Linked DNA regions of Homo sapiens. The protein of the gene in region 2 purifies or fractionates together with the protein of the main gene of each other region. This does not show direct contact. Each region holds a gene or a part of one and is shown on either strand. Other genes may lie near its edges. The genes, in order: NFS1, EFCAB13, LYRM4 and ZC3H4.

Region 1 (3,680 bases), on a different chromosome or scaffold from region 2:
TAGCATCTCTGATTGGAGCTGATCCTCGTGAGATCATTTTTACTAGTGGTGCTACTGAATCCAACAACATAGCAATTAAGGTAAGAGAAGGGAACCAGAGGGTGTATGTGGGCTTTCCTGACCTAGGAGATAGTGTCCCTCCATCATTTGGACTCGTATATGTATTTCGCAGCCATCCATCCCCACCCCATTGTGAAGAGAAGGCTTGCAGTCTTTCTGATTTGTTGCTTCCTTTAACCCTTTGCAGTCTACTCTTTCTTAAGTCTTTGCTGCTGTTGGTCTGAGTTGAGTGAGGCAGTTGGATAGCAAAGGAGGTGGCCCTCAGGCCATTAACCACTTGTTTTTTTTTTGTCTGGCAGTTACTTCAGAGAGTGGATAATGGTGATTGAACCTTTTCTCCATTCTTCTTTTTTTTTTTGATACATAGTCTCACTCTGTCGCCAGGCTGGAGTGCAGTGGCGCAATCTCAGCTCACTGCAAACTCCACCTCCCAGGTTCAAGTGATTCTCCTGCCTCAGCCTCCAGAGTAGCTGGGAGTACAGGTGCCCGCCACCATGCCCAACTAATTTTTATATTTTTAGTAGAGATGGGGTTTCACCATATTGGCCAGGATGATCTCAATCTCTTGACCTGATGATCCTCCCATCTCGACCTCCCAAAGTGCTGGGATTACAGGTGTGAGCCACCGTACCCGGCCTTTCTCCATTCTTTTTATCTAGTAACAACAAGTTATATATGTGATTTCAGGGCTGTCCTCCTCTCAGCCTTCCTTTTTCTTTCTGATCAGATCTATTTGCAACAAGTTCCTCCTGTTTCTTTAGATATCTCCATTTTGAAGTGCTTGTCTTTGTGGTGCCCTCTGCAGGCATTCACATGGTCACCCATTCTGGGATCAGTCATTTTGTCCTGGGTACATAGAAGATCTTTGGTGCTAATGCAAGGAAAAGGTACTTTTAGTAGTCACGTTGGTGTTTCATAGAACATAGTCAGATTTCACTGGGCCTGGTTGCCAGGATTATGTGAGTAAATGCCAAGGCTCTGAGAAATTGTGGCTTGCTGTACTTTGAACTCTGGCTCCACTTGCTCTCATCTTTGTCTTTGAACTGTGCTGCCAGTGTTGGTTTCTTTGACCTTGGCCTGAATATAGGAGGCCTAGGACGGGCTTCAGGGTCATCAGCACTCTGCCTGATCATGTTAACAGGAAGGCATCCTTCCTTGGGACTGCAGAGACCAGAGAGTCGGGGTGAAGGTTCCTCCAAAGGTGGAGATGGTTTCTGAAATGGAGAGCATTTTCAAAACTTCGAAAATATTTTCTTTGGAAGTCTCCACAGATTCCAAACCAACAGGTCAAGGATCGCTAAGAGTACCTGTGATGATGTTTCTTTTAATCTCCATGATTGGTAGAGTAAAATAATCTATAAATTGTTAAAGAAATCTACATCATGGGTAACTGAGATAAAATAAGGTGGGTGGGTGGTGAAATGTCATTTAAATGAAATTTTTATAAACAACTGTAACATTTTGAACTATCATCACCATCCCACAACCATTTTTTCTTTTTTTTTTTTTAGACTGAGTCTCACTCTGTCATCCAGGCTGGAGTGCAGTGGCACGATCTTGACTCACTGCAAGCTCCGCCTCCTGGGTTCACGCCATTCTCCTGCCTCAGCCTCCTGAGTAGCTGGGACTACAGGCGCCCTCCACCACACCCGGCTAATTTTTTGTATTTTTAGTAGAGACAGGGTTTCACTGTGTTAGCCAGAATGGTCTCGATCTCCTGACCTCGTGATCCGCCCTCCTCGGCCTCCCAAAGTGCCCCACAACCATTTTTACTTACTGATGTAAATACTTTTTAGGATAAAATAGAGTATAAATCAATTATAAATGTTTCTCATTTATGTTCTTTGTCCTCATGAACAGACCATTTTTACATAGTTATAATTTTGTCCTATATGGTTTAATATTCTGCTTTTATTTTATTTATGTGTTTATTTTTTATAAGACAGGGTCTCAGCCGGGCCCAGTGGCTTACACCTGTAATCCCAGCACTTTGGGAGGCTGAGACCGGCAGATCATCTGAGATCAGGAGTTCGAGACCAGCCTGACCAACATGGTAAAACCCCGTCTCTACTAAAAATGCAAAAACTACCTGGGTGTGGTGGCACACCCCTGTAGTCCTAGCTACTTGGAAGGCTGAGGCAGGAGAATCAGTTGAACCCAGGAGGCAGAGGTTGCAGTTGCAGTGGGCCGAGATTGCGCCATTGCACTGTAGCAACAAGGGCGAAACTCTGTCTCAAAAAAAAAAAAAAAAAAGACATGGTCTCATTCTGTCACCTAGGCTGGGGTGCAGTTGCACAATCACAGCTCACTGGAGCCTTGAACTCCTGGACTCAAGCAATCCTCTCATCTTAGCCTCCCAAGTAGCTAGGCTTACAGGCGTGTACTAGCACGCCTGTCTAATTTTGTTATTTTAATTTATTTATTTATTTTTTTTTGAGATGGAGCCTGGCTCTGTCGCCCAGGCTGGAGTGCAGTGGCGTGATCTCAGCTCACTGCAAGCTCTGCCTCCTGGGTTCACGCCATTCTCCTGCCTCAGCCTCCTGAGTAGGTAGGACTACAGGCTCCCACCACCACGCCTGGCTAATTTTTCTATTTTTAGTAGAGATGGGGTTTCACCATGTTAGCCAAGATGGTCTCGATCTCCTGACCTTGTGATCCGCCTGCCTTGGCCAACCGAAGTGCTGGTTTTACAGGTGTGAACCACCGCGCCCGGCCTGTTATTTTAATTTTTGTAGAGATGCGGCTCTCATTATGTTGCCCAGGCTGGTCTTGAACTCCTGGGCTCATGTGATCCTCCTGCCTTTGCCTCCCAAAGTTCTGGGATTACTGGCTTGAGCCACTGCACCTGGCTTTTTATTCTGCTGTTAAAGGTAATAGTCTTTTATAAGCTCTGGGGAGAGATGCACATTTTCTTTCCAAGTTTTTAATTTTTGAAAAATAATTCTGTCACATATGGTGTGTTTTTTTAAAACCAATGGAAAGATTTAAAATGAAGTGTAGGCCGGGTGCAGTGGGTCAAGCCTGTGATCTTAGCACATTGGGAGGCCGAGGCAGGCAGGTTGTCTGAGCTCAGGAGTTCGAGACCATCCTGGGCAAAATGGTGAAACACCATCTCTACTAAAAAATACAAAAAATTAGCTGGGTGTGGTGGCTGTAGTCCCAGCTACTCGGGAGGCTGAGACAAGAGAATTGCTTGAACTCGGGAGGCAGAGGTTGCAGTGGGCCGAGACCACACCACTGCACTCCAGCCTGGGTGACAGAATGAGACCGTCTCAAAAAATAAATAAACAAAAATAAAATAAAATGAAGTGTAAATCTTCCTCTCCTTCCCCAAGGACCCCAGTCCCTGATCCTGTTCTGCAAAGTTGATACTGTTAATTCTTTTTTTTTTTCCCAAGGGGGAGTCTTGCTGTGTCACCCAGGCTGGAGTGCAGTGCCGTAATCTTGGCTTACTACAACTTCTGCCTCCAGGGTTCAAGCGATTCTCCTGCCTCATCTTCCTGAGTAGCTGGGATTACAGGAGCCTGCTACCACACCCAGCTAATTTTTGTATTTTTAGTAGAGACGGGGTTTCGCCATGTTGACTAGGCTGGTCTCAAACTTCTGACCTCAGGTGATCC
Region 2 (4,454 bases):
GTATATCAAAGACTTATTTGCACTTCCATGTTCATTTCAGCATTATGCACAATCGCTGAGATAATGGAATCAACCTGTGTCCATCGATGGATGAATGGATAAAGAAAATGTAGTAAACATATGCAATGGATACTATTCAGCCTTAAAAAAGAATTTCTGTCATTTGTGACAACATGAATCAACATATGCAATGGATACTATTCAGCCTTAAAAAAGAATTTCTGTCATTTGTGACAACATGAATCAACTTGGAGGACATACTAAGTGAAAAAAGCCAGGCACAGAAAGACACATACCACATGATCTCACTTATATGTGGAATCTTAAAAAGTCAAACTCATAGAAGTAGACAGTAGAATAGTTGTTAGAGGCTGGAAAGGGACGGGGCGGGTAGGAGATGCAGGATGGGGAGATGCTGTTCAAAGGGTACAAGGTTCAGTCAGACAAAAGCAGCAAGTTTCTGAGATCTATTGCATAGTGTGGTGACTATAGCTAATAATAATATATCGTATATCTCAAAACTGCTAAGAGTAAATTTCAAATGTCTCACCATAAAAAACGTTAAACAAGGTGATGGATATGTTAAGCTTGACTTAGTCGTTCCATATTGTATACATATATTAAAATATAACATTGTACCCCATTAAATATTTACAATTATGATTTGTACATATATTTAATAATAATAAAAATCTAAATAAAATATTAAAGAATGCCTACAAAGCAAGGTTTAAGATGTAAATGAACACAGTAGTATCACGGAAGGGATTAAATATTGTAACATTTATTGAGCACTACGTATATATTTTTGAATTCCCACAACCCTGGAAGAATGAGAAAATCGAGACTCAGGGAGCGTTAAGTATTTTGCCCAACTGCATACGATAAATACATAGGAAAAACAAACACACAGAAGAAAACCAAACCAACCAAAGTATCTCTTTCAAAAGGAAACGACAGTCTCCTTAAAGGCAACCCGAGACAAATTTCAGCAAAGCCGTGGGACACATGGCCTTCGAGCTGCTGTCCATTATTGAGTAGCAGAAGCCAAGAAGGATGGAATGTTTTGGAAGAAAGGGGTCGGGGGTCGGGGTGTTCAAAGGACGGACCGAAGGTAAGATTGAAGTGGGGTCAGACCATGGCGGGACAGCGCACCGGAGAATGAACAGCGATTAGGGAAGAGTGGCGAGCGGGTGGCAAGGACGGAGGGCGGAATCCCGGCCGGGGCTGCGGGAGGAAAGCGCACGGACAGGAGCCCCACCGCTCGAATGCAGCGCCCGGCGGCTGGCCTCGTGAGGTCACAGGCCCTTACGAGGTGGGGCAGGCAGGCGCGGCCGCAGTGCCTTCCAGTCAGCGCGGAGGCGGTATTGAGTTCAGCCGCTCCCCACAGCCCCGGAGCCCCTGGGCGGTGGCGGTGGCCGCGGCAGCACCGGCTCGACAGCCGATAGGGTCCTGGGCCCGCTCCGCTCGGGGTGGTCGGTGGGCGGAGCGTCGGGCTCGGTCAGGTGACCGCGGGGGCGGGGCCGCGCGGCGCGGGATCCTGGGAAGGCTGCAGAGCTAGAGCAGCGCCGCCCGAGGGGCGGCAGGGGCTGACCACAGAGAGCGCGGGGGCCTCCAGCCGAGAGGAAGGGAGGGCAGCTCGGGCCGGTAGTGGGACCCTTGGGGGACAGAGGTGGGGAGGGGAGGCGAGACCCGCTGAGGAGTTGGGAGGGGAGCCTTCGAGGTGGAGGGTGGAGAATGCAGTAGGGTGCGAGGGAGGAAGGAGAACAGTGGTGGGGCTGGGTGAAGGAAGGTTCCAGAAAGGAACAGTGAGGGGACTGAGTGGGACAAAGGGGCAGATTGAAGGGTGACTGAGACTGATCAGGTGGTTCCTCAGAAATGGTGGTTGTTGTAGAAGGCTGGCGGTCCCGGGGGTGGTGTCACTTCCCTGCTCCTTCAGCGGGAGGCGGAGACCTCTATTAGCACACTCATTTCCATCTTGCGGGTCGTTCACTCGCTAGCTTACAGGTCCTCTTTCTTCCTGTAGAAGTCGTTGGCTTCGTAAGAGCAGGGTCTATGGGAAGCCTCCTCAGCGTGGGTTCTTGGAAGAGGTGGAGGTTCGTTCACTCGACGTTTGTTACACAAATATGAAAACAGGGTGACGAAAGTTTGAACGTTCATGAATGGCAGTAGCTGCAATGGAGTTGTGTATGCAGTTGGTATTAATGACGTTTTCAGTCCCTCTGGCGAGAGAAAAGCGAGCGAGTCGGGCGGCTTGTGAGGGAAATGTGGCATGAGAGGAAAGAGGAAGGTATTTTGTGAAAGGATGTCATACAGAGTCATGCTTCAGTGAAGACGCCTTTGTTTTTCTCATCTTAAAGCCTCACAGCCCCATTTTCCTCTCAGCTACTGCCTTATTTCTCTTAACAACGTAACTCCTTGAAAGAGCCTACCCTACTGGCTGGGTTCAATTTCTTTACCCCGTTCTCTCTTGTACTCACTCTGACGACATTGTCTCCTTACCACCCCACCCAGATGGCTCCTTTCAAGTTTGTCAGTGTCCTCCGTGTTGTGAAACCTAGCGAACCATTCAGTACTGATCTTAACCGCCCACCCCACCCCCCTTTTTTTTTTTTGAGACAAGGTCTCTGTCGTCCAGGCTGGAGTGCAGTGGTGCAATCATAGCCCACTGCAGCTTCAAACTCCTGGGCTCAAAAGATCCTCCTGGCTCAGTCTTTGGAGTAGCTGGGACTAAGGTCGCCATGTCCAGCTGATTAAAAAAAAAATTCTGTAGAGGTGGGAGTTTCACTGTTGCCCAGGCTGGTCTTGAACTCCTGGCCTTAAGCAGCCCTCCTGCTTAGACCCCCACCCCCGCATCAAAGTGTTGGGATTACCTGCATAAGCCACCATGCACAGCCTGATTGCTCACTCTTGAAGTACTTTCTTCACTTGGCATTCAGGAACCCAGACCTACCTGATTTCCCTCCTCACAGTAACCAGAGTGATCCTTTCAGAAAGAACTTCAGATTATGTAATCCTTCTCCTCAGAACTCTTTCAATGCTTGTCACTCCTTCAGAGTACAAGCCACAGTTCTTACTGTCATCTAGGGGTCCTCCATGATATGCCACTTTCACTTAGCCTCTCTGATCTCTCCTGCTTCAGCCTCCTGGGGCCTTCCCACTATTCCTTGAACATTCTTCTTGCCTCGGGGCTTTTGTACTTACTTTTCTTTCTGGCTGAAATGCTCTTCCCTAAGATATTAATCAGCTCCCTACTTCAGTTCTTGCAGGTCTGTACTCAAAAGTCTCCCTCTCAGTAAGGTCTTCCTTGGCCACCCATTCTGTTCCCTGCATCTCTTCCCCTATACTACATTTCATATTCCCCTCCCTGCTTTACTTTTTTTTTTGTACTTATTGCAGATAACATACAATATGTTTTATTTTTCTATTTTATTATTTCACTCCCTGACTAGAACATAAGCTTCATGAGGGCAGATTTTATATATATATAAACAAAATATATATATATATATATATATATATATATATATATATAGCATATATATATTTTGTTCATTGGTATATCCCTAGAGCCTAGGAGAGAACCTAGTGCACACTAAGCATGCAGACATATACGTTGAATTCATGGATAGAAAGGTGAATGGATAGATGACTGGAGAAAAGGGATACGACTCCCTCCATTTCTCTTGATTTGTTCCTGCAAGTTCACCGATAGAAGACAGGATTGAAATAGTTGAGAAAAATTATATTGTCAGAGTTACAGGGAATAGACTTTCTAAGTTAATTTTTTCTTTTAAGTTTGGAGAGGCTTATGCGGTACCTGATTCATCCAGCAAATTAAGACCTGCCAACTTTTTGATAATCTCGTCAATAAATTACAGAACAATTGTTCCTTTCAAGATTTATTCAAAACGTGTCAACTCTGCTTAATTAAGCACTTTGATGATTTAAGAAATCTTGGTGAGTAGCTTAGTAGGAAGGGAATTTGTTCATTCATCCCTCTCTCCCTCTCTTTTCCCCTCCCTCCATACCATTCCTCCTTTCCTCTACTCTTTCCTTCATTATATATATACCATTGTATTTGATACTGTGAGAAATAATTTTAAGAATGATAAGTTACCAGTCCCAGTTCTTTATAAATTTAGGCTATAGTTGGTATAGGAGCTATACATATGAAAAATACAAATACAAGGCAAATGATTAATGTCAGTTAAATAGTGAAGACAAGAATAGTGAAGGCAGTAAGTGCTATGCACAGTAGTTTAGAGGTAAATATTGAACTGGTTGGAGAAGATCTAGAAGAGATTACGTAGGATGGGTTACTGGGGAGACCTGCATAGATTTCCAGTATTTTCTGAGATGAGTATTTTCAATGTGGTTCTATTTTATTTTAACATATTTTGAATTCCAGGAATGTTGGACATATCACATTGAAAAATAATGACTATAAACAT
Region 3 (3,680 bases), on a different chromosome or scaffold from region 2:
TATAACTAGGATCAAATATATCTTTATTAATCAAAATAGGAACTATTACAATCAACATGTTTTTGCCAACAAGAAATAAGTTTATTCCTGTGGCGTAAAAATCCGTGCTTCGGGATTCTACAAACTCTTGGAAAGCATTTTCTTCATCCTGCTAGTCAAGGAAGCGTTTTCCCTACAAAAAGTTGTCGAGATGCTTCAAGAAGTGGAAGTTGGTTAGCGAGAAGTCAGATGAATATGGCGGATGAGGCCAATTCGTTCAACTTGTGAAGCGTTGGTTTTGTGACATGCAGTCAAGGGTCATTATGGAGACAGTTGGGCCGTTTCTGTTGACCAGTGCTGGCTGCAGGCATTGCCGTTTTCAGTGCATCTCATGGATTTGCTGAGCATACTTCTCAGATGAAACAGTTTTGCCGGGATTCAAGAAGCTCTAGTGGAGCAGACAACCAAACAGTGAGCATGACCTTTTTTTGATGCAAGTTTGGCTTTGGGAAGTGCTTTGGAGCTTCTTGGTCCAGCCACTGAGCTGGTCATCACCAGTTGTCACATAAAATCCACTTTTCATCACACATCACAATCTGATCGAGAAATGGTTCATTGTTGCATGGAATAAGAGAAGACAACACTTCAAAACGATGGTTTTTTTTTTTTTTTGCTCAGCATGAGGCACCCACTTATTGAGGTTTTTCACATTTGCATTTTGCTTCAGATCGAACGACCATCGAATGGTCAACATTGAGTTCTTTGGCAACTTCTCGAGTATTGTAAGAGGATCAGTTTCCATGATTGCTCTCAATTGGTCGGTGACAACTTCCAATGGCCGGCGACTAGGCTCCTCATCTTCAAGGCTCTCGTCTCCTTTGCAAAACTTCTTGAACCACCACAGCACTGTACCTTTGTTAGCAGTTCCTAGGCCAAATGAGTTGTCGCAAGTTGTCGCTGCAGCTTTTTGACCAATTTTGAGCTCAAATAAGAAAATTGCTGAAATTTACTTTTTGTCTAACATTATTTCCATAGTGTAAAATAAACATAAACAGCAAGTCATTAGCAAAAAAAAAAACTGAGAATTGCCCATTAAAATGATGTATAACATAACCACATTTATTTAAGAATTTATTCCAGTATCAAACAGCAAATTCCAGCAATGCAAAAACTGCATTCCTTTTGCACCAACATAATAAATATTCATTGTTGAAATGCAAGAGAAAATTATATTCAATGTATCCCTCTTATAGCTTAAGAAATATGTTATTGTAAAACTTGAGAAAAGGCTAAAGTGATGCCCAAATGCATACCAAGTGTAGTGTCAGAACTCCCTAATTCTTCATCAGATATTTGAGTTTTTATTAATGTGTTATACACTAAGCATTGTGCAAAGAGCTTCAGATCAAAATGAGCCTCCTATTAAGGGTAAAACATTACAAGCTCCTAAAGAAGTTTATCAATGAAGTACAAAGGAAAGGCCATAGAAAGGAGCTGGTCTCCTAAGTGCCACCTTAAAATTAGGAATGCTTTTGACCAGAAGTCATAGGAAGCCCTTACACAGGGCTTAATTGGGGGCTTATTCTTCTCACATAGGAAAGGTCTAGAGGTATGTAGCTGCCAGAGCTTATTTAGCAGCTAGAAAATGTCAAGGTATGTGTGAGTCTCGGTGTTCCTCTCATGCTTATGCCTGATGGTTGCAAACAGCTTTTGAAGCTCCAAATACATCCTTATTTAGTCAGGAAGAAGAAGGGCAGTCACAGCCAGGAAAGGGTAAAGCTTTCCAGGAGGACTCTGCTTTTGCTCATTGACCAAAACTTCATTACGTTTATATCACTAGGTAAACAACAGGCTGGAAAATTAGGATACAGCTATTCTAGCATCTCTAGTGAAAAGACAGCAGAGAGAAAACGGTGGGAAGAACTATTGATTAGGCAACAGTCTGTGTCAGCCACAGAGGTGGACATGCGATGGAAGAGCATTCCAGGCAAAGACAGTAAGGCATGTGAAAAGTAAAATGCAAGGCGTGTGTCAGAACCAGACGTGGGTAATTGTGGCTGAAGTGTTGGACTGAGCTAAATGTCATGATGTTAAATGCTAGGTAAAATCCCCAGTAAGTAACGAAATAGGTTTCAAGGCAGAGTGAGGCATAGAGAGGAGAAGCAACTTGATTGGTCTCACAGTTGGTCAAGGGCAGAATGGGATTAGAAGGCCGCCTCGCTCCCCGTGGGCTGCCGCTTCCACAACCCCATTCTTTTCAGAAGAAAATTCCTGCACCCATGCATCCTGTGAATAAGCCTGCAAAATCTGTAGAAACATCAACCTGGAGAAGTTTATTTTCACAGTTCCTCCTTATAGGTGAAATGGTTAAACAGGCTCCCTAGTTTCATGAGTGGTAAAATTCCTAAGTCCTGATCAACCTAAGTGCTGATCAACGTCAGGTCTCGCTTACTATGTACTACACAACTGAATGAAACACTGATATCTGTGATTGCTGTCTTAATGAAGGAACCAAATAATGATTCGTGTTTAGGAATCTGTTTTCTTTTTGAGCCATTGGAACTCTTTAATATATTACCAGTCGCAATCCAGATTTATTGGCAAGCTGAGGAATTAGAACCATGAGCTCCTGGAGTGGGAACCAGGCAGCCCTCTCACTCATCAAAGGATTTCTTTCACATGTTTTCCTTGTTGCGGATCTTTTAACAGTGACTGCCTCTTCCACCCTATGTGTCACTGATTGATCAAGAAGGCTAGCATGCAATGATACAGTTTGGATGTTGTCTCCACCCAGATCTCATGCTGAAATGCAATCCCCCGTGTTGGAGGTGGGGCCTGGTGGGAAGTAATTGGATCATGGGGGCAGGTTTCTCATGAATAGTTTAGCACCATTCCCCTTGGTACTGTCCTCACAATAATGAGTGAGTTCTCATGAGATCCGGTTGTTTTAAAGTATGTGGCATCTCCTTCCTCGCTTGCTTGCTCCTGCTCTGGCCTGTGATGTGTCTGCTCCCCCTTCACCTTCTGCCATGATTGTAAGCTTCCTGAGGCCTCCCCAAAAGCTGAGCAGATGCCAGCATCACAATTCCTGTACAGCCTGCAGAACTGTGAGCCAATTAAACCTCTTTTCTTCATAAATTAGCCAGTCAATGTGAGAACAGACTAATTCAAATACCACCCTAATATGAATAGTATTAACAAGCACCTTTCACTTTGTAAAACAGGGCAGCTACAGTGAAAGCCTTCATGCCAAATATTCTTCTGGAGACAAATCAACAAATCCATTTCTTCCTAATATTTCTTGAAAACTCACAGTGTGTGTGTGTGTATGTATATATTACCACACTAGAACCTAGTAATAGGTGGAATCAAACACAAGATGGCCCTGCTGTCACAAGATTGTAGTATGGTTGCGCATATGCAATGTACATATAAGGACGGCTCAAGAAACTTACAGAGGAAGCATGCAAATTGAAATAGTGCCCGAACAGTGGAGATTTGCAGAATGTACTGGGGCTGAGGAGACACCTTGCATAATGATGTTTTGGCTGTCATATATCGTATTACAGAAATATTTTTTAAATAACATTGTATTCTATTTTAAGCAGCCAAATAAGAGTTTTGCTCTCTATGAAATGTTGAACACATCATACATGTCTGTAAAAATTGCTTTCACTCTTTTATTATACCATATGTAAGAA
Region 4 (2,545 bases), on a different chromosome or scaffold from region 2:
TTGCTTTCCGTCTCTTTTATTTTTTTTTAAAGTAGTACTTTCTTTGAGATTTGTAAATTGTATATAACCATCTTAAGTTCTGGTCAGTGTGGCGGGCTCAGGGGCTCCTGCTGAGCAAACCGACTCATGCCCGCAAACCTGTGAACTTTCGCCAGTGCCTGGCCTCAGACTCTGTGGGCTCTGCGTGGCCGGGCCTTGCTGGAGGCCCAGTGGGTTTTCTGGGCAAAGCATGGCCCCTTTTCCCCAGGACAAAGGGAACAGTTGGTGTCTGGGAAGGTATTGAACGCTCCTCACCCTGTGCCCGAAGAGACCCGGAACCAAGACCATGGCAGGGCCTGCGTGGAAGCAGGTCCAGGCGTTTCTAGAACCCTAGGGTGCACCATCACTGTCTTTTCAGTGCAGGCTGTAACAACCCACTCAGGAGACAGTGAGAGTGAAAAGGTATTAAGGAAAAAGCCCCCAGCGGCACTATGGGGGCTCCCTGGCGCATGCCTGCTCCTGTCCCTGGATTACCACACGTGCCCTCCCTGCCACCCTCCGTCTAGAGCAAGCGGATGCCCCCCAGCCTGCAGCAGAAGCCTCCACAGTGAGAACTGGACCCAAAGGTAGTGGGGGCCGGTGTGGGGCAGAGTCCTGAAGAGCCACCTCTAGGAGGCAGCCCCTAGGAGCACGCACGTTCTGTCAGTATTACCCCACCTGTCCTATCAGGTGGGCCACACCCTGCTTGCCCACACCAGGGTCTGTCCTGGTCCTCAAGCCACGCACCCGCTATGCCTGCACTGCAGCCCAGCCCCGGACAGCTCCAGGATCCGTGCAGTGGCTGCGCCGCCAGGCCCCAACAATGGGGACCCTGGGGTGGCTCCTGGCCAAGTGTTCTCTGTTTTCCTCGCACCTCCTTACACTGTGTGACCTGCAGGGCATGAGGTATTGATGTGTTCGGGTTTCCTTTCCCAAGCCAGCAGATGCAGGTGTTCCAAGGTGTGTTGCTCTGTGGGATTTGTGGACACTTAAGAAACGGACTGAGTGGGAACCCTGCAGCCAGGGGATGGGGAGCCTCTGCTCCCCCCATGCTCCCACCCTGGCTGAGGGCCAGCCTCATCTGCAGAGCCCTGGAGGAGGCCCACCTATGGACACAGCCCGAGAGATGGGCGCAAGGGGTGCTGGGGGAGGCCTGCTATCCTGCCTCTGGGCCACTTGAGGGGCCTCAGGAAGTGTGTGCTTGTGGCTGCATCTGCCCGTCTCCCTGGCCCACCATGTGGCTGCAGGCCAAGCTCTTCATTGCTGACCATGAAGAGACCTAGTTACCTGCCAAGGGATTCCCCTTCCCTCCTCCTCAGGGTGGGGTGAACAAGGCTCCTATCCCACCCCACCCCAAAAAGAGAAAAATGAAAAACTCATAGTTTGGAGCCAGGAGGCAGGGTGTCCTACAGGGCTGCACAGCCCTGAGGGGTCAGTGCTGGGATCTGGTTGGTTGGTTTGTCTTTTTGTCTTTTTTTTTTTTTTTTTTTTTACACAATCATTAATGAGATTTGTCTTCAGCCACCAGTGTTGGCCTTGAAGCAGAGGGCACAGCCCTTGGTGTTTGTAAAATAAGTATGAATACACAGTGTGGCAGTGTTGTGGTTTTTGTTGTTGTTTTTCCTCTCCTTTTGAGAATTTTCTTTTGTAAAAGAAAAATATTTTTTAAACCGAAATCTGTGGATGAAATAGAAGCTGGAGCCCTCCTCTTGGAATATTCAGCCTAAGAACCTCATAGGACTATGAATTCACCCGAAATTCTCATTTGCCATCAGGCCGAGCTTTTAAAGAAAAATTGTTCTCTAACCAGGATTGTAACAAAAGTGTAAATACTGTTTCAGAGTTGAGAGTTGGTGGTGCAAATATGTATATAATGAACTGTATTTTTACAATGATCGCCGCATGACTATTTCACACCCTTTTTATACTCCATATCTGTCTTCCAGAAACGTCACCTGCCTTTCTCCTGTGGTCTCTTAATCCAGTAATTGTATTACTGCCATTAAAGGATGCAGTTATTTTAAAAAGCTTGTGGGTCTGGTCTCTCCAGGCTGCCCCAGACCATCCCTTGCCCTGGGAATTAACGAGGGTGGAAGGTGGCTGGGGGGTGAAACAAGGACCTATTCTCTCAGCGGTCGGCCTCAGGGTAACATGAGGACACTGAGGGACAATTTGTGCCTCCAAACAGTGTCAGCTGTCCTCAGTGGATGGCAGTAGATCACCTACTAGCAACATCCCAAGGTCCCTGAGCTTCTGTGCGGGCCACGCTCAGCATTTGGGATCCAGGGGTGACCTGCACAGTCCTGGATCTGCCCCTGCAGTGCTCATAGAAAGACCATTAACACAGACAGGACAGCTGGGCTGGCTTCCAGGGACGGGACGAGCTTTAGCAGGCACCCTACCCATGTGATAGCCAGGGGTATCCTCTGAGGAGGGGTCTGTTGTGATGTTGGAACTTACTTTGAAATGCATCAACAAATATGAAGGATGGGTGGATAGATGGCTGAATGCATGATCAATACAGTTT

What was found.
Region 1: the proteins of EFCAB13 (region 2) and NFS1 purify together in Homo sapiens (affinity purification with mass spectrometry; one large-scale study listed by BioGRID and IntAct). This does not show direct contact.
Region 3: the proteins of EFCAB13 (region 2) and LYRM4 purify together in Homo sapiens (affinity purification with mass spectrometry; one large-scale study listed by BioGRID and IntAct). This does not show direct contact.
Region 4: the proteins of EFCAB13 (region 2) and ZC3H4 purify together in Homo sapiens (affinity purification with mass spectrometry; one large-scale study listed by BioGRID and IntAct). This does not show direct contact.

The regions. Positions count from the first base shown.
Region 1 is NC_000020.11:35,692,777-35,696,456, reverse strand, and holds part of NFS1 (cysteine desulfurase isoform a precursor), read left to right. Parts: coding exon 1-80; intron 81-3,680.
Region 2 is NC_000017.11:47,322,428-47,326,881, forward strand, and holds the start of EFCAB13 (EF-hand calcium-binding domain-containing protein 13), read left to right. Parts: upstream 1-1,527; 5' UTR 1,528-1,647; exon of another isoform or gene 1,648-1,672; intron 1,673-2,026; 5' UTR 2,027-2,096; intron 2,097-3,798; 5' UTR 3,799-3,960; intron 3,961-4,454.
Region 3 is NC_000006.12:5,250,805-5,254,484, reverse strand, and holds part of LYRM4 (LYR motif-containing protein 4), read left to right. Parts: intron 1-3,680.
Region 4 is NC_000019.10:47,063,687-47,066,231, reverse strand, and holds the end of ZC3H4 (zinc finger CCCH domain-containing protein 4), read left to right. Parts: 3' UTR 1-2,045; downstream 2,046-2,545. UniProt on the Homo sapiens protein: RNA-binding protein that suppresses transcription of long non-coding RNAs (lncRNAs). LncRNAs are defined as transcripts more than 200 nucleotides that are not translated into protein.